Linked DNA regions of Homo sapiens. The protein of the gene in region 1 binds, or shares a complex with, the protein of each later gene. Each region holds a gene or a part of one and is shown on either strand. Other genes may lie near its edges. A codon is read from its position in the direction of its gene.

What was found.
Region 2: the proteins of PTPN18 (region 1) and ERBB2 are in contact, whole or in part, in a crystal structure (PDB 4NND), measured with the Homo sapiens proteins. Residues at the interface, in NP_055184.2 of Homo sapiens: Arg61, Tyr62, Lys63, Asp64, Val65, Arg138, Asp197 (codon at 3,372), Arg198 (codon at 3,369), Ser230 (codon at 3,273), Ala231 (codon at 2,904), Gly232 (codon at 2,901), Cys233 (codon at 2,898), Gly234 (codon at 2,895), Arg235 (codon at 2,892), Arg268 (codon at 2,712), Ala273 (codon at 2,697), Gln276 (codon at 2,688); in NP_004439.2 of Homo sapiens: Leu1109, Gln1110, Arg1111, Tyr1112, Ser1113, Glu1114.

The regions. Positions count from the first base shown.
Region 1 is NC_000002.12:130,363,788-130,373,461, reverse strand, and holds part of PTPN18 (tyrosine-protein phosphatase non-receptor type 18), read right to left. Parts: intron 4,330-9,674; coding exon 4,261-4,329; intron 3,698-4,260; coding exon 3,635-3,697; intron 3,415-3,634; coding exon 3,272-3,414; intron 2,906-3,271; coding exon 2,839-2,905; intron 2,758-2,838; coding exon 2,680-2,757; intron 2,588-2,679; coding exon 2,498-2,587; intron 2,264-2,497; coding exon 2,175-2,263; intron 1,206-2,174; coding exon 979-1,205; intron 590-978; coding exon 515-589; intron 306-514; coding exon 238-305; 3' UTR 1-237. UniProt on the Homo sapiens protein: Differentially dephosphorylate autophosphorylated tyrosine kinases which are known to be overexpressed in tumor tissues.
Region 2 is NC_000017.11:39,715,764-39,725,437, reverse strand, and holds part of ERBB2 (receptor tyrosine-protein kinase erbB-2 isoform a precursor), read right to left. Parts: coding exon 9,499-9,674; intron 9,168-9,498; coding exon of another isoform or gene 9,138-9,167; coding exon 9,005-9,137; intron 8,924-9,004; coding exon 8,833-8,923; intron 8,372-8,832; coding exon of another isoform or gene 8,270-8,371; intron 8,119-8,269; coding exon 7,958-8,118; coding exon of another isoform or gene 7,954-7,957; exon of another isoform or gene 7,781-7,953; intron 5,652-7,780; coding exon 5,604-5,651; intron 2,120-5,603; coding exon 1,981-2,119; intron 1,901-1,980; coding exon 1,778-1,900; intron 1,527-1,777; coding exon 1,428-1,526; intron 713-1,427; coding exon 527-712; intron 390-526; coding exon 234-389; intron 112-233; coding exon 36-111; intron 1-35. UniProt on the Homo sapiens protein: Protein tyrosine kinase that is part of several cell surface receptor complexes, but that apparently needs a coreceptor for ligand binding. Essential component of a neuregulin-receptor complex, although neuregulins do not interact with it alone.

The DNA.
Region 1 (9,674 bases):
TCTTCTTTCTTGAATCTGCTCTGTGCAGCCTCACCAGCCACTATACCCTAGCTACCTCCTCCAGCCTCAAGCCTTGAATGCTACAGTCATTGGGGCAAAGCCCCCACATTTCCCACCCTGAGAAACTTTAACTTTGATCCAGGCCCACTGTTTCCATTCTGCGCACGGCGCTCAGCAGCACCGGGGCATCAGCAGTCCGAGCTCACAAGAGGCAACAGGCAGGAACTGGCGTTAGACTTACACCCGGGTCCACTCAGCAGGCGGGTCCCGGGGACCCTTCGGCCTCCCAATGCGCAGGTTGAAACCTGGGAGAAGAAGGGTGCCGTGGGTCTCATGGAGAAGCTGAGGTGTGTGGAAGCTGGCAGACATGAAGAAGGCCATCCCCCCGCCTCCAGGTCCTCCTGGTTCACTGCAGCCACATCCACAGGACTAAGCTCCATGCCCCATCAACCCCAGACTCCTGGGTTCACTCAAAGCAGCAAAGTCCCAGCAACCCAGGCTCTACCTGACTTACCTAGCCCACCGGTCTGAGCTCCACCCGCCACGTCCTCGTAGGCGCCAGATCCGGCAGGACTTTGGTCAGCAGGAACTGAGGGCAGCAGACCCCCCACGGGTCAGCTCCGGAAGCCCCAGGGAGTCCCAAGACCCCACCCCTAGCGGGGACGCTTCCCCGGAGGCCCGAAGGGGAGAGCCGAGGGCGCCGGGCGGGAGAAGGCACACACCCCGGACGTGGCCTCCAGCCTTTGGGCGCGGCCAAGACAAGTATTGCCAGGAACCCTGCCCCTGGACCGCGACTGCGACCGCCAGGGGGCGCTTCCGGGGCGTGGCCAGGGACGCCTGGACATCAGCGTCGGGGCGTGGCCAGGCTAGCGGCTGGGGTCCCCGCGGCCGCCAGGGCCTGACGGACCACTGCAGGATGGTTCCGCCCTGCGGATCACAGCAGGATGATGCCCTGAGAAGGAGCAAGCCTCGACTCACCGCGGCCAGGCAGCGTCCCCCTCGCGTCCTCCGCGTGCGCCCCGGGTCGCTGGGCGCGCGGCGTCACCTTGCTGTAGAGCGGCGCCTCCTCCGCGCTGCGCGCCCCCGTCCCCGTCCCCGTCCCCGTCTGCGTCCCACTCCCGGCGCCCGCTGGAGCCCCGCGCTTCTGCACCACCGCGTAGGTGTCAGCCATGGCGTGGCCCGGGGACCCGGGCACAGAGATGCTCCTGCAGGCAGGGAGGGCCGGGAGGAAGTGAAACGGCGGCGCTGGGCAGGGCGGGAGTGGGGAGGCTGCTCAGCGCGCAAACCACGGGCTTCCTTCCCGCCGAGGCGGTGCGCTAGATGGGAGGGAGGGCTCCTTGGGTTGGAGGCCTCGCTTCTGTGTCCCTAGCGCCCTGCAAGTTAGGGGGATGAAGGAGGAACGGGGTCAGCCTGGAGGGTAATTTGGGGCAGAGTGTTGGTTTGAGGGGTGGTCATTTCTGTGTCAACGTCTACTGAACAAAAGAATGCGGAAGTGGCATAGAAGACAGGAAGGGATGGCCGCAAGGACAAGGGCCTTAAGTCTCCGCTGCGAAGGCGGCTCAATCCCATGTCCGCAGCACCCAACGTGCGGCCTGACAAGAAGGCGGCGTCTAGAATTATTTGCTGAATTTTTTTTGTTGTTTTTTTGAGACAGGATCTCGCTCTGTCGCCCAGGCTGGACTGCCGTGGTGCGATCTCGGCTTACTGCAACCTCCACCTCCCGGGCTCAAGCGACTCTCCTGCCTCAGCCTCCGGAGTAGCTGGGATTACAGGCTCTCACCAGCACGCCTGGCTAATTTTTGTATTTTTAGTAGAGACAGGGTTTCACCATGTTAACCAGGCTGGTCTCCAGCTGGGCTCAAGTGATCCGCCCTCCTTGGCCTCCCGAAGTGCTGGGATTACAGGGGTGAGCCACCTGAATTAAGGTTTGATTAGAGGATCCAGGAAAGGCCTAACTCAGAAGGCAGGGCAAGCCTTAGAGGCAGAGGCAAGGGGTAAATGAATCATCTTGGGATAATTGAATCATCTTGGGGTGGGTTCCCAGAGCTCAATTCGAAGAAAGGGCCAGCGAACACTTGGCGAAGTGAACAAGGAACGGACTGGTGTTCCAAGGATGAAGAAGGGGTTAGCCTGAGAAATTGGGCAGGGAAGAATCCGGGGATGGAGCCGGGTACCTGAGGACCCCTCCTGGTGGGCGGGGTATGGCGAGAAGTGCCTGGGGAGTCCGGAGGAAGAGGGCATCGTCGTAGAGTGGGGCACAATTCTGAAGAAAAACAGGAGGGGAGGCTCCTGAGGGAGGAAGCTGGCCAGGCCTCTCAAGGGGCTCTGGGAGAAAGCTTAAGATGGGAGAGCCTGATAAGGATGCCTGGAGGAGGGCACAGGTGGATGTCATAGTCAGTGCCTGCTCCCAGTAGTCCCGGGGGCTGGACCCTGCTCGGGGTCCTGGTCTCTGAGGGTGCTGATGGTGGACAGGAGAGTGGGAAAGGAGCCTCTGTACCTCTTTGATGTTCTGGTAGTGGGGGCTGGCATTCTGGAGTGTGGAGCAGAACATCTGAGCCACCGTGTGGTACAGGAACCTGTACTGCTCCTGTTGGGGTGAGGGACCATCAAGAAGGGAAGGCAGGGGCAAATGACAGCAGTGGGCCACTGTCCCTGAAGATTAGGAGACCCAGGGTTCACCTCTGTCTGCACGGCCGCAGGCCGCTGCTTCCTCATCTTAAGGACCACATCAAAGAGACTGAAGTCAGGTGGGATCATCTGGGGCAGACAGACAAGGCACTTGAGCAGGACACGTGGTCATGGGCAGCACACTGCACACACAGGATGCCTGTATCGTACCTGGGTCAGGAGCAGCTGCCTCACATAATCCACGGTGCACAGGACGCCTGTTCGCCCACAACCCGCACTGACAAGAGAATCAGAGTGTGCCTGGTCAGGTCCTGACCACAACCCCTTTTAGATGGGGCATTTGGGGATGGGGGTGAGGGTCCTGATGGATCCCCTGCAGAGCCTCTTGATTCCCAGAATCTTCAGATTATATCTGAACAAGGAAAACCTTTTTAATCACTTACATTTTGTTGAGCAAGAGCTGTGTGCTTATTCCCCAGCTGAGTCTGTGCTGAACAAGTGCTCACAATTACAGTCCATGGAGGGTGAGCAAGGGTTCTCAAAATAGGCACTCAGACTACAAGACTAGCCCCATGCCCTGTACTCCCCTCCATGCTCTGTCCCCTCTGCCTCACCAGACCCTCCTGAAGCCCATTTCCAAAACCTGCAGTGGACACAGAGGGGTTCAGGGCCAGATCCCTGGAGGCGACGGGCTTCCTCCACCATGGCGAGCATGTGGTCAGGACTGCTGGGGACCCCACGGTCTGGCCAGGACATATACTGTAGCTGGTACACAGAACGGGACTCCTGAAACACAGAAAAAGATGAGCAAAAGACTTAGGAAAAAAAAGAAAAAAGCATTAATTGGCCATCTACTATACACCAGGCCCACTTCTAGGCATCTTCCATTTATGTCTACCAGACAATAACTGAGGAAGTGGGTACTAGTATGATGCCCATTTTTACAGGAGAGGAAACCTCTCCCCTTTCAGGAGCCCCTTTACCTCCTCCTCCCCTGTCACAGTACCTTCTGGAATGTGACCTTGAGGGTCCTGAGCATGATGTCCTCATTCAGCCACTTCTCCTTTATCTGAGTAAGGGGGGTGGGGCAAGTAAGAAGAGGGAGGAGAACAAAGATCATAGGTACCAGAAGACATTTATAGAAAGCAAAGCATTCCTGATTAAAAAATCAAATACAGAAAACATTTTAAAAATTCATATAGCCCAAACTTTCCCCAAAGCTTTCATTAAGGAAACATTTGACACAGGAGCAAAAGAGGAACTATTATAAAAACACAAGCCCTTTTGCAATGAAAAGAGATGTCTTTTGTTCTAAAATGAAACTTTTATTGCATTTATTAAGTACTAACTGTATGTATGACTTGAGAGAGTTCCCCAAGCTCTTTTGAAATGGTAAGAGAAGTAAGAATTTCAACAACCTAACCAGGCACATTTACATGACAGAGATTAACTGATTGTAGCCAAAATAAAAATGCAAAGGCTATCCCTATAGTAAGTTCTAACTATTTGCAGGCTAACACCAGAGGGTTTCCTGCAGTATGAGTGGACTGTGGGTTAAATCATTCAACCTTTTAGGCCCAACCCAAAGCCTTTCCACCCTGGGAATCTTCCTTGAAAACTCCCACAGCTCACCAGAGTGATGCAGAAAAGCCCAGTCTGCAGTGGCTCCTGCTCCTGGGCCCAGTACCGCTCACACCTTTTCTGCAAAAGGTAAGGGAGAAAAGGCAGGGAGTGAGAAGAGGGAGTCAGCTTCAGAGCTAGCTCAATCATGCCACAAGACACCCCAGGTGCTCGTGGTGGAAGCACAGGCAGCTATACTTATAACCTATAACAGACGCCAGCCAACAGAGCCATCAGATTAAACACATGCAGACTCAATGGAGGTGCGCTGCTGACCATGCAGGGGAAATACAGTCCAGGATACCCTCCCACTGTAAGCAACTAGAAACTGGACAAAATACATGAGCCACTATTTTCAGACACTGGTTGGCAGGTGTTGCAGTACTGTGGTCACTGAACAGACCACTCCGGCTTATTGCATGGAAGTGTCACCAGGCTGTAAGACATGAGTCTAATGATCCCACTGAGTTGAGCCAGAGACCATGGCTCAAGGAGGCAAAAGCAGCTAGAATTTGCAGGGCAGAGTCCTGGAAGGAACAGAGGTATGCAAATAAAAACAAAACAATAACTTGCATAGAAGTCCCCTCCTTGATTCTTTGGTTGAATAATCTGAATATATACAACATGAAACCCCATGAGGCCAGGCAAGAATAACTTACCATGAAAGAATAGTAGGGATCTGTAGGATGAACATTTCCTTGAGCTCATGATGAGAAAGAATTCACATTCCCTCTAGCTAGAGTGTAGAGGCATTATCAACTATAAGGGGCATTTAGTAGGGAACCTAGAATGACCACACATTAGAAGTACGGCTAAATTAATTCTAGAACAAAGGCTACTTGATCAACCATCCAAAAGTTCCTGAAAAGGCAAAACACTCTAAAGAAAACAATCCAACACTTACCTGTGCAAAATTCAAAATATCAAGCATCCAATAAAATTTTGCTGGACATACAAAGAAGCAGGAAAGTGTGACCCATAACCAGGAGAAAAATTAGTCAATAGGAAAGGGCCCAGAAATAACAGTTCAGGAAAGAAGCAAAAATCTTAAAATGGCTATTACAAATACACTCAAAGATGAAAAGGAAAACATGAACATGATGCAGAGTGGAATGAAAGATACAAAAAATAACCTGAATGGAATTTATAAAGAGGAAAAATAAAATATATGAAATGAAAAATCCACTAATAGCAGGGTAGACACTAGAAGAAAGGATCAATAGACATGAAAACATAGCAATATAAATAATTCAAAATGAAATGAAAAAAATGAAAAAGAATCAGTTCTCTGTAGAAATATACCAGTCTAGTGTATGTGCACGTGGAGTCCAGAAGGAAAGGAGAAAGGGGGATAACAGAAACTTTATGTAAAGAAATAATAGGTGAAAATTTTCCCAAATTCGATGAAACTATGAACCCACAAATCCAAGAAAGTCAATGAACCAGAGGGAGAATAAACCTAAACCTAAAGAAAGTCACGCCAAGGCAGATCATGATCAAATTACTGAAAAAGAATGAAGAAGAGAAAAAAAAATTTTTTTTTGAGACCCTTGCTCTGTCACCCAGGCTTGGCGTGCAGTGGCTCAATCTCGGCTCACTGCAACCTGCAACTCCCAGGTTCAAGCGATTCTCCTGCCTCAGGCTCCTGAGTAGCTGGGATTACAGACACACACCACCATGTCCAACCTTTTTTTGTATTTTTAGTAGAGACAGGGTTTCACCAGGTTGGCCGGGCTGGTCTCGAACTCCTGACCTCAAGTGATACACCTACCTTGGCCTCCCAAAGTGCTGGGATTACAGGCATGAGCCACCACACCAGGCCCCAGAAGAGAAAATCTTAAAAGCATTATGCACAAAAGGACACATCACATACTGAGGAACAAAGTTAAGAATTATAGCAACATTTTGTCAGAAACGGCAAGTCAATGCTATGATATCCTAAAAATGCTGAAAACCTTTTCAGACAAATGAAAGCTGAGGGAATTCATCACAAACAAATCTGCATTATGAGAAATATTAGAGTAAGCTCTTCAGATGCTTACAGACAGTGGCTGCTCCAGCTATTTGAGAGGCTAAGGCAGGAGGATTGCTTGAGGCCACTTCAACACCAGCCTGAGCAACATAGCCTGTATCTTAAAAAAAAAAAAAAAAAAAAAAAAAAAATTAAAATTAGCTAGGTGTGTTGGCAACATAGCTAGCCTGTATCTAAAAAAAATCTTTTTTAGTTAGCTGAGTGCAGTGGCACACCTGTACTCCCAACTACTTGGCAGGCTGAGGTGGGAGGATTGCTTAAGCCCAGGAGTTTGAGGCTGCAGTGAGTGGTGACTGCACACTGCACTCCAGCCTGTATGACAGAGTGAGACCCTATCTCTTAAATAAATAGAATAAGTAAGCTCTGCATACAAAAGGAACGTGATACAAATGGAAATACAGATCTACACAAAATAACAGGGAGAAAAGTAAGTGGCTAAATGTAAAAGATATTTCATTTTAAACATCTTTAAAAGATAATCTAGTGAATTTTATCAAACAAAGAGGAATTAATACCAGCCTTTCACAAACTCTTGCAAAAAACTGAGAGGAACCATTTCCCAACATATTGTATGAGGCTAGTATTACCCTGGCACCAAAACCAAAGACATCACAAGAAAAGAAAACTACTAACCAATATCTCACAAACATAGACACAAAAATTCTCAATGAAGTACTAGCAAAGTATTAAACACCATGACTAAGTGGGATTAATTCCAGGAATGCAAGATTGGTTCAACATATGAAAGTCAATGTCATACACCATATTAGTAGAATACAAAACACACGATCATCTGAATAGATGCAAAGAACAAAATTTGACAAAACTCAACAGCGTTTCATAAAAAAGTTCATTAGAAACTCAGTGCCCAGGATTTTTATTGGGGCACCGTCTGCACAGAATGTAGGCACACTCTGCCTAGCCTGTACCAAAATGTCAGACTACCAGCAGGAGAACAGGTGTTCTGCATAAAGCATATTGTTTGTATTAACAGTTCAGGCATAGTGAGCCACTGTTATCAGAAACCTAGGTTTCTAGAGGCCACCCAAGAGTCAACCTTACAGGAAGGCCTTTCTAAGCATAAACATTTATGCTTGCCATGTTTAACTCTTCTGCACAGCAGGGGACCTACCCAAAATAGCCAAAACAATCTTGGAAAAAAGAACAAATTTGGAAGACTCATACTTCCTGATTTCAGAACTTCTACAAAGGTATAATAATCAAAACTATGTTACACTGGCACAAGGATAAACACATCAATCAGCTTAATAAAATTGAGAGTTCAGAAATAAACCCTTATATTTATGGCCAATTAATTTTCAACAAAGGGGCCAAGACGGTTCAATGGGCAAAGCATAGTCTTTTCAACAAATGGTGCTGGAACAACTGGATAGTCACATGCAAAAGAGTGAATGTGGACCCCTATCTCACATCACATACAAAAGTTCATTCAAAGTAAATCTGAGACCTAACTGTAAGCAAGAAAACTATAAAACACTTAGAAGGAAGAACAGGAGTAAGTCTTTATGACCTCTGATTAGACAATGACTTCTCAGATACACCAAAAGCACAGCAACACAATAGATTGGAATTAAAGTTTCACAAAATGTTTGTGCTTCAAAACACACCATCAAGAAAGTGGAATGACAACCCACAGAATGGGAAAGACATTTTAAATCATGTACTGATAAGGGACTTATATACAGAATAACGCTTACAACTCAATAATAAAAAGACAACCCCAAATAGCCCAATTTTAAAATGAATAAATGACATGAATAGACATTTGGCCAGAGAAGATATACAAATGGACGAATAAGCACATGAAAACCAAAACCACAATGAGGTACCACTTCCCACTCATTAGGATGGCATATATGTCATTGTCATATGCCACATAATGATGTTTTGGTTAACAACAGACCACATATACAATGGTGGTGCCATAGATTATAATGGAGCATATGTAGAAACCTGATACATGGCACTTGATATTGACACTGCATATTAAGTTGGGGAAATGATTGATACTCAGTAATGGTGCTGGGACATTTGGTTTTCCATATGAAAAATATATAAATAAAAAATGTATATACTATCTATGTTTGTGTAAGTATACTCTATGATGTTTACACAATGACAAGATAGTCTTAACAATGCAGACCATATCCCTGTCATTAAACTACACATGTCCCTCCCTCCCTCTCTCTCTCTCTGCTGATGGGAACGTAAAATGGTACAGCCACTGTGGAAAACAAAATGTTGAACATAGCGTTATCATATGATCCAGCAATTCCATGCTAGGTGTATACCCAGGGAACTGAAAACAGGGATTCAAACAGATACTAGTATACCAATTTTTTGTTGTTGTTGTTGTTGTTGTTTTGAGACGGAGTCTCGCTCTGTCGCCCAGGCTGGAGTGCGGTGGTGCGATCTCGGCTCACTGCAAGCTCCGCCTCATGGGTTCACACCATTCTCTTGCCTCAGCCTCCCGAGTAGCTGGGACTACAGGCGGCTGCCACCACGCCTGGCTAATTTTTTGTATTTTTAGTAGAGGTGGGATTTCATCGTGTTAGCCAGGCTGGTCTCGATCTCCTGACCTCGTGATCTGCCTGCTTCGGCCTCCCAAAGTGCTGGGATTACAGGCGTGAGCCACTGTGTCCAGCCTGTATACCAATGTTTGTAGCCGCCTTATTTACAATAGTCAAAAGGTACAAACAACCCAGATGTCCAACAGGCGAATGGATAAACAAAATGTGATATATACATACAATGAAATATTATTTGGCCTTGAAAACAGTGAAATTCTGATACACACTGCAACATGGATGAACCTTGAAAAAAGGACAAGTATTGTATATTAGTGTATTCCTGATTCCACTTGCATGAGGTACCTAGAATAGGCAAATTCATAGGGACAGAAAGGAGAATAGAGGTTACCTGGAAATGGGGGAATGGGGAGTTATTGTTTAATGAATACAGAATTTCTGTTTGGGATGATGAACATGTTCTGAAAATAGACAGTAGGAATGGTTAATCCATTGTGAATGTACTTAATTCAATTGAATTGTACACTTGAAATGGTTTAAATGGCAAAATTATTTTTAACATTCCTCACAGCACCTATAAACTGGCAAATTTTATGTTATGTATATTTTACCACATAATTTAAAGAAAGACACAATGGCATACCACTTCACAACCCCTAGGATGGCTATAATTAAAAAAAAAAAAAAGACAGTAACAAGCATCAGGGAGAAGAAATGGGGACCCTCAAACATTGCCGTGGAAATGTAAAATGATGCTGCCACTGTGGAAAACAGTTTGGCACTTCCTCAAAATGTTAAAAATAGAGTTTCCATATAGCCCAGCAATTCCCAGCAATACCCAAGAG
Region 2 (9,674 bases), on another chromosome or scaffold:
CTCACCCACCCCTCCCAACACCCCCCATCACACACCATAACTCCACACATCACTCTGGTGGGTGAACCGCCGGCGGAGAATGGACTCCAGCGCCATCCACTTGATGGGCACCTGGGAGGGCAGAAGAGGAAGTCCTCCAACTGTGTGTTGTGGGGAGGTGGCCACTCAGAGTTCTCCCATGGGCTAGACACCACTCCACCCAGCCTCCTCTGCTCCTTGGTCCTTCACCTAACCTTGCCCCCATCTGCATGGTACTCTGTCTCGTCAATGTCCAGCAGCCGAGCCAGCCCGAAGTCTGTAATTTTGACATGGTTGGGACTCTTGACCAGCACGTTCCGAGCGGCCAAGTCCCTGTGTACGAGCCGCACATCCTCCAGGTAGCTCATCCCCTGGAATGGGAAGCACCCATGTAGACCTTCTGGGAGGGCCTGGGCCTGGCCACATGCCCAGCAAGAGTCCCCATCCTAGCCCCTTGTGGACATAGGGGTTTGCTCCGGAGAGACCTGCAAAGAGCCCAGGTGCATACCTTGGCAATCTGCATACACCAGTTCAGCAGGTCCTGGGAGCCCAGGCGTCCGCGGTTTTCCCGGACATGGTCTAAGAGGCAGCCATAGGGCATAAGCTGTGTCACCAGCTGCACCGTGGATGTCAGGCAGATGCCCAGAAGGCGGGAGACATATGGGGAGCCCACACCAGCCATCACGTATGCTTCCTGGGGACAAGGGTACGCTGAGAGGGTATGGGAGACCACACACCCCCAAACACCACACAGCCTCCCAACCATCACAAACCACAGCCATGGCCCACAGCCTGTGAAGGCTCAAAGTACCAGCCTGGACAACATGGTGAAACCCTGTCTCTACTAAAAATACAAAGATTAGGCCGGGCACGGTGGCTCACACCTGTAATCCCAGCACTTTGGGAGGCCGAGGCGGGCGGATCATGAGGTCAGGAGTTTGACACCAACCTGGCCAACATGGTGAAATCCCATCTCTACTAAAAATACAAAAATTAGCCGGGCGTGGTGGCTCGCGCCTGTAATCCCAGCTACTCAGGAGACTGAGGGAGAAGAATCGCTTTAACCTGGGAGGCTGAGCTGAGACCGCACCATTTCACTCTAGCCTGGGTGACAGAGCGAGACTCTGTCTCAAAAAAAAAAAAAAAATTAGCGGGCGCTTGTAATCCCAGCTACTCAGGAGCCTGAGGCATGAAAATCGCTTGAGTCCAGGAGGTGGAGGTTGCAGTGAGCCGAGATAACGCCACTGCACTCCAGCCTGGGTGACAGAGCAAGACTCCGTCTCCAAAAAAATAGTCTAGGTTTGCGGGAGTCATATCTCCCCAAACCCCAATGAAGAGAGACCAGAGCCCAGACCTGCAGCCATGGGGTCCTTCCTGTCCTCCTAGCAGGAGAGGGTGGAGGGGCTTACGTCTAAGATTTCTTTGTTGGCTTTGGGGGATGTGTTTTCCCTCAACACTTTGATGGCCACTGGAATTTTCACATTCTCCCCATCAGGGATCCAGATGCCCTGGGCAGAAAGAGGAGGATATGAGTGAGAAGAGCGTGGGCTGGATCCTACCTGCCTTCCAGGAGATCATTACTTGTCCTCCAAACATCCTTCACCACCCTAGGGCTTGGCCCCGCTCCCTTCTCCGCTGTAACTGCCCTCCCCCAAACACTGCCTCCAGCTCTTGCCCCTCCCATCAGAACTGCCGACCACACCCCTCCAGGCACCGCCCCCATCCTCTGGGGCCGCCCACCCCAGGACCTGGCCCTGACCTTGTAGACTGTGCCAAAAGCGCCAGATCCAAGCACCTTCACCTTCCTCAGCTCCGTCTCTTTCAGGATCCGCATCTGCGCCTGGTTGGGCATCGCTCCGCTAGGTGTCAGCGGCTCCACCAGCTGGGGTGAGGGGGTGGTGGGTCAGTGCCGGGGGCCGGTGCAGACCCCACGCGGGCTGGGAGGACTTCACCCCGCCTCACCTCCGTTTCCTGCAGCAGTCTCCGCATCGTGTACTTCCGGATCTTCTGCTGCCGTCGCTTGATGAGGATCCCAAAGACCACCCCCAAGACCACGACCAGCAGAATGCCAACCACCGCAGAGATGATGGACGTCAGAGGGCTGGGGGCGGAAGCCAGGGTCAGGGATTGAGGGCTAGTTTGGGGTGGGAGGGACAAAGGGGGCCCACGGGGGACATGAAGGTGTTTGGCATTCGGAAAGGGAAGTCGGAAGGGTGACCCACAGGCTTGGACCCTCTCCTACTCTAAAACCTGCCTTGGCTCCCCGCTGCCTCCACAATAAAGTCCAAACTCCTTGTAGGCAATCAGAACCCTCTCCGCATCTCCAGATTCTCTATACTCTTGCCCTTGGCTCTGGCTTAGGGCTTCAACAATTCATGGTGTAAAAATCACTAAGGACTCTGGGCGCGGTGGCTCATGCCTGGAATCCTAGCACTTTGAGAGTCTGAGGTGGGCAGATCACAAGGTCAGGAGTTCGAGACCAGCCTGGCCAACATAGTGAAACCCCCGTCTCTACTAAAAATACACACACACAAAAATTAGCTGGGCGTGGTGTGGGTGCCTGTAATCCCAGCTACTTGGGAGACTGAGGCAGGAGAATCGCTTGAACCCGGGAGACAAGAGGTTGCAGTGAGCTGAGATTGTGCCACTGCACTACGGCCAGTGCAAGACTCCATCTCAAAAAAAAAAAAGTCACTAAGGAGACTGTTAATACACATGCCCCTCAACACCAAGGGGCTACGTCCTGATAAACCAATTCTAAGTTGAAACTGAAAATGCATTTAAGACACCTAGCCTGGCTTACACGTGCTCAGAACATTTACACTGCCAGCAGCTTACAGTTGGGCAGAATCATCTGACACAAAGCCTATTTTATAGTAAACTGTTAAATAAGTTTGTGTTATTTATTTATTTATTTTTGAGACAGGGCCTTGCTGTGTTGCCCAGGCTGAGTGCAGTGGTGAGATCATGGCCCACTGCAGCCCTGACCTCTGGGCTCAAGCAGTCTTTCCACCTCAGCTGCCCAAGTAGCTGGGACTACAGACACACGCCACCACACTCAGCTAGTTTTTTTATTTTTTGTAGAAATGGGGTCTCACTATGTTGCCCAGGCTGGTCTCGAGCTTCTGGCCTCAAAGGATCCTCCCACCTTGGCCTCCTAAAGTGCTGGGATTACAGGTGTGAGCCACGGTGCCTGGCTATGTAATTTATTGAATACTGAAAGTAGGGCTGGGCATGGTGGCTTGAGGCTGAGATGGGCAGATCACCTGAGCTCTCGAGTTCGAGACCAGCCTGACTAACATGGAGAAACCCCGTCTCTACTAAAAATACAAAATTAGCCGGGTGTGGTGGTGCCTGCCTGTAATCCCAGCCACTCTGGAGGCTGAAGCAGGAGAATCGTTTGAACCTGAGAGGTGGAGGTTGCGGTGAGCCAAGACTGCGCCATTGCACTCCAGCCTGGGTAACAACAGCAAAATGACATCTCAAAATAAATAATAAATAAATAAATAAATAAAAATAAAAGTGAAAAACAGAATGGCTGTATGGGTATTCAAAGTACGGTTTATACTGAATGTATATTATTGCTTTTCCACCATTGTAAAGTCAAAAAATCCTAAGTAATATCACAAATCAGCACACAGTCTGTATGCATACAATTTTGGGGCCCCACCCCCAGAGATTCTGACTGCTGCATGGGTACAGGAATGTACACCTGATGATTTTGATGTTCTAGCCAAAATTTCCACCCACAGGTCATGATTTTCCACACCTCCCAGTGTTTGCATAGGCTGTCCCTTCAGCCTGGACCACCATTTCTCCACAGGGTCATCTTTTAAGACTCGGCTCCGCCAGGCACGATGGCTCACACCTGTAATCCCAGCACTTTGGGAGGCCGAGGCAGGTGGATCACCTGAGGTCAGCAGTTCAAGACCAGCCTGGCCAACATGGCAAAACCTCATCTCTACTAAAAATACAAAAATTAGCCGGACGTGGTAGCGCATGCCTGTAATCCCAGCTACTGGGGGGCTGAGACAGGAGGATTGCTTGAACTGCTTGAACCTGGGAGGCAGAGGTTGCAGTGAGCCAAGATCGTGTCATTGCACTCCAGCCTGGGCAACAGAGCAAGACTCCATATCAAAAAAAAAAAAAAAAAAAAAAGACTTGGCTCATCGCCAGGAGTGGTGGCTCACTCCTGTGATCCCAACATTTTGGGAGGCCAAAACTGGAGGATCACTTGAGCCCACGAGTTTGAGACCAGCTCGGGCAACATAGTGAGACCCTGTCTATACAAAAAAAATTTTTTAAATTACCCAGGCGTGGTGGCACGCTCCTATAGTCCCAGCTACTGCAGAAGGGTAACTTGAGCCCAGGAGGTCAAGGCTGCAGTGAGCCTGTGATTACACCACCACATTCAAGACTGGACAAGAGAGCAAGACCCTGTCTCAATCACTCAATAAAAAGATAGCGTATCTGGCTGGGCACGGTGGCTCATGTCTGTAATCCCAGCACTTTGGGAGGCCAAGGTGGGCGGATCTTGAGGTCAAGAGATCGAGACCATCCTGGCCAACATGGTGAAACCCCGTCTCTACTAAAAATACAAAAATTAGCTGGGTGTGGTGGCATGTGCCTGTAATCCCAGCTACTTGGGAGGCTGAGGCACAAGAAGCGCTTGAACCCAGGAGGCAGAGGTTGCAGTGAACCGAGATGGAGCCACTGCACTCCAGCCTGCAGGCAGAGTGAGACTCCGTCTCAAAAAAATAAAAAAAAGATAGTGCATCCTGGGATAGATGGAGCTCCCGGGTGTTGATCCAATATTCTTGTCACCCTCTCCTCTCCATACCCCCTTGCTTAGCACAGGGTCTGGTACATACCAAGCCTGTAACACATGCTCATTTCACGGACCGATGATCGCCTAAGACAGACTCCAGTCTGTTTTTCTCCCCAAAGTCCTTTCCAAAGGTCCCCACTGCCCAGTCAAGTCCCACCCTGTGGCTTGGGGATCAGGTCCTATGGCATCCAGGTCAGACCCCACCCTGACTCTAACTTGACCCCCTTATTCCTGTGCTTACTCAACAGCCCCCGACACCAGAACTTTGAAGACATCCTGGATTTCCTGATGCCTCCCCCTCCAGTGTCACCTTGCACCCCAATGCTTTCTACCTAAATGCAAGTGCAATACCTGCTCCTCTCTCAAAGCCTAGCTCAAATGCCACCTCCCACTCGAAGCCTCCCACCATCCCCAGTTAAGAATTCATCACTCCCTCAGTGCTGCAGCTGTACTCTTCTCAGTCTCCCTTGACTTCCAAGGAATTGAACTTTGCCTGTGTCCCTCACAAGGCATCAAGTTACTCTAGGGTGTGGAGGGACTGGGTTTCCTAGCCATCTTTCCTTGCAGTCCCCTCCCCTCAGCATCTGAGCAGGTCCTCTGTCACTTGGTGAAGTGGAAAATGACAGGAGGTTCCACAGTGGAAGAGTGGGTGGGAAGGGACATATGTCAGGGGGTCCCCTCCCTACAGCAGTGACCACCCAGCATCCAGTGGGGGAGTGAAGGGCAATGAAGGGTACATCCTGGGGTCCAGGCCAACCTGGCTCTCTGCTCGGCGGGGCAGCCCTTGTCATCCAGGTCCACACAGCTGCAGGAGAAACAGTCTCATCAACAATTCTGGGAACCACCCTCTTGGGAACCACCTTTCCAGCCTCACAACAACCCTGGGAGGGGTGTGGCTGGGTCATTATCCCCATTTGACAAAGGCAGAAACTGGGCTCAAGGCCGTCAGTGCTCCTTCTACCACCTCACAAGGAGACTCCTTCTCCAGCCAAGGAACCGGCATGCCCCGCTCCCCTGCAGCTCCTTGTGGTGGATAGGAAGCGGGGAGGGGCACCCAGAAGAGCAAGCCCGGGAGCTCAACTATTCCCTCCATAGAAGAATCCCAGGGTAAACCCATACCACTTCTCCAGAGAACGGTTTGGCAATACCTATGAAATATCATCTATGACCCAGCAGTTCCTCCTCTGAATATAGACTGTACATACTGTTTGCAAATGCTTTTTTCACTTAGCAGAATCTTGCAATGTTTTTCCATGTTCTAACACCGTGATCTGGATCTAGGATCCATATGGATCTGGACCCATATTCTTTTTTTTTTTCTTTTTTTTCTTGAGAAGGAGTTGCACTGTGTTGCCCAGGTTGGAGTGCACTGGTGCAATCTCGTCTCACTGCAACCTCCGCTGCCCAGGTTCAAGCAATTCTCCTGTCTCAACCTCTCAAATAGCTGGGATTACAGGCGCCCACCACCACGCCTGGCTAATTTTTGTATTTTTAGTAGAGACGGGGTTTTGCCATGTTGGCCAGGCTGGTCTTGAACTCCTGACCTCAGGTGATCTGCCTGCCTCGGCCTCCCAAAGTGCTGGGATTACAGGCGTGAGCCACCATGCCCAGCCTGGATCCATATTCTTTTAATTTTTCTCATTTAGTTGTCTTTAAATTGAAATGCATGAATATATCCTTGTGATAAACATTGCCAGCACTGTATTCCCACTAGGGGGCATACAAAAGAGGGCTCACTTGTGTGTGGAGCTCAATTGCAATAAACTGCAAAAACAGGGAAACAAGCTCAATATCCCTCAAAAACAAAGTGAAATTACATCCATGTTACAGGTTGAGTAATTAAAAAAAAAATAAAGGTGGTAGATCCGTCTGTACTCACAAGAAAGGATACCTCAAGTCGGGGGGAAAGCAAAGTGCAGAACAGCATCACCACACCTGGCTAGTTTTTGTATTTTTAGTAGAGACGGGGTCTCGCTATGTTGGCCAGATTGGTCTCGAACTCCTGATCTCAAGTGATCTGCCTGCCTCAGCCTCCCAAAGTGCTGGGATTACAGGTGTGAGTCACTGCGCCCAGGCTCTTGACACTTTTTGGTTTACACAAACAGCAATCTTATTTGACTCGACCTAATATAAATGTAGTATGTCTATATAAGTGTGCAGAAAAGAGCCTGGAAGGGTGAACACACAAGTCAATGCGGTGGTTCTCCCAGCAGACAGGAGAGACTGGGTGGACAGGGAGTTGAGTGAAAGGGCACGTTGGCTTTGTAACATTTATACTTTTATGTTACTGAAAATGTTTATCACAAGGATGTATTCATGTGTTTCATGTGTAAAGACAACTAAATAAGAAAAATTAAAAGAATAAGGTAGATCACCATGTTAGAACATGGAAAAACATTTCAAGGTTCTGGAAAGTGAGAAAAAGCAATTTGCAAACAATATGTATGATCTATGATTCTATTTGTTAAAAAGAAATATATGACTGGGCATGGTGGCTCACCGCTGTAATCCCAACACTTTGGGGGACCGAGGCTGGCAGATCACCTGAGGTCAGGGGTTCGAGACCAGCCTGGCCAACATGGTGAAATCCTATGTACTAAAAATACAAAAATTAGCCAGGCAAGGTAGCACGTTCCCGTAATCCCAGCTACTCAGGAGGCGGAAGCAGGAGAATTGCTTAAACCCAGGAGGTGGAGGCTGCAGTGAGCCAAGATTGTACTACTGCACTCCAGCCTGGGCGACAGAGTGAAACTCCGTCTAAAAATACATATGTGTGTGTGTGTGTGTGTGTGTGTGTGTGTTAAAATGTGCACAGATAAAAATAACTGGAGAATAATATTAATATATGTTAACTTATATATACATATTAGAATGTGCACAGACAAAAATAACTAGAGGAAAAATATTTCAAATTATTAACAGTGGGGATAGAACTGCTAGGGCATTAATTTATATTTCATGTTTTAATTTTACAATTTTAACAATGTGTTATTTTTGTCATCAGAAACAAGATATGACAAAGGGAGAGTTGGTCCCCTTTTATAGTAAGAGCCCCAGAAAGACCCCTGAAAGGAAAGTCCTCCTTTCTGCAGAAAAGACCGTTGGACTCACGAGTGGGTGCAGTTGATGGGGCAAGGCTGGCATGCGCCCTCCTCATCTGGAAACTTCCAGATGGGCATGTAGGAGAGGTCAGGTTTCACACCGCTGGGGCAGCGGGCCACGCAGAAGGGAGGGTCCTTATAGTGGGCACAGGCCACACACTGGTCAGCCTCCTGGGGGGGGCAGAAAAGATTTGTGGGGGGCTGGCACTGACACCCCCAGGGCAGTAGGATCAGGCCCTTAGTTGGGTCCCCTTTGTGCTTCCCAAGGCCACCCAGCAGCAATTTTCGCCATGCTCCTGGGACAAACACCCTTGCTCTTCACCCAGTCTCTGTGGCCCCTCCCTCGGGGCCCTCCTCCAAGCTTGATCCTGGGCAGGGACTTGAGCCAGAAAATGGGAGGCACCCAGAGAGGAAAACGCATTACCTAAGGTGTAACAGCGAGTAACAACAGTCACTGCTCTGTAGAAAGCCTTTCCCGTGCTTCACTGTGCCAAGCCCTGTTTAATTTCATTCTTGCCACACCCCAGCAAGGTAGGTATTATTACAATACCCATTTTAGGAATAAAAAACCAAGGTTGGAAGCAGGAGCTGGGTCTGAATCCAGGTAGTCTGACGCCTGAGCCCACAGGGCTCACCACCCTAGCACAGCCACAGTCACAGCCACCAACACAGACCTCCTTAGAACCTTTTCATAGTCTGAAGGGCCCCAGTGTCCCCCAGGCCCCTTTTCTGCCACTCTGTTGCTGTTCAGGTCTGAGCGCTGAGCCCTCTCCAGGGATATTTTACCAGATAGCACACCCTACTGCATCTCGCCATCCTGCCAAGTCCCTGGCAATCCCCCTCGCTGCCCCCCTCCACCCAGCTCTGAGCCCGCCAGCAGCTCACCGGTCCAAAACAGGTCACTGAGCCATTCTGGGGCTGACACTCAGGGTGGCACGGCAAACAGTGCCTGGCATTCACATACTCCCTGGGGAGCCTGAGAGAAGGGACAGTGGTGAGGGGGTCTGAGAGGAGCCCCATGCACCCCTCCAGCCACCCTCTCCTCCGCCCCTCATACCCCTGCAGTACTCGGCATTCCTCCACGCACTCCTGGCCCCGAAGGAACTGGCTGCAGTTGACACACTGGGTGGGCCCTGGACCCCAGCAGTGCCCTCGGGCGCACAGCTGGTGGCAGGCCAGGCCCTCGCCCACTGCAGTGAGGAGGAAGGGACCGCAGGGGACTTTTAGGGGAGGCCCCAGGTCCAAGTGAACCAGGGAACTGGCTGTGGGCATGGCTGTGGGCTGGAGGGGTGGGGACAGGTGGGGCCGATGTAGGGAGAGGAAGAGTTCTGAGATTTCAGAAACAGAGGGGGAGGGAAGGATGCCAAGGCAGGTAGGACCCAGCTAGAGAAGCCATGCCAAGAGGCCAAGCCAGCCAGAGCTGTGCTGAGTCAAGAAGGGTGCACAGAGACGGGCAGTCTGCACAAGTCCAAGAACGCTGCTGCCAGGGCCCCCTGGGCACTGCTGTGTGCTGGCAGATGGGGAGTGCGCACACTGGGCTCCCTGTCTTACCACACTCGTCCTCTGGCCGGTTGGCAGTGTGGAGCAGAGCTTGGTGCGGGTTCCGAAAGAGCTGGTCCCAGGGCACCGTGTGCACGAAGCAGAGGTGGGTGTTATGGTGGATGAGGGCCAGTCCACTGCCCAGTTCCCTCAGTGAGCGCAGCCCCAGCCAGCTGATGCCCAGCCCT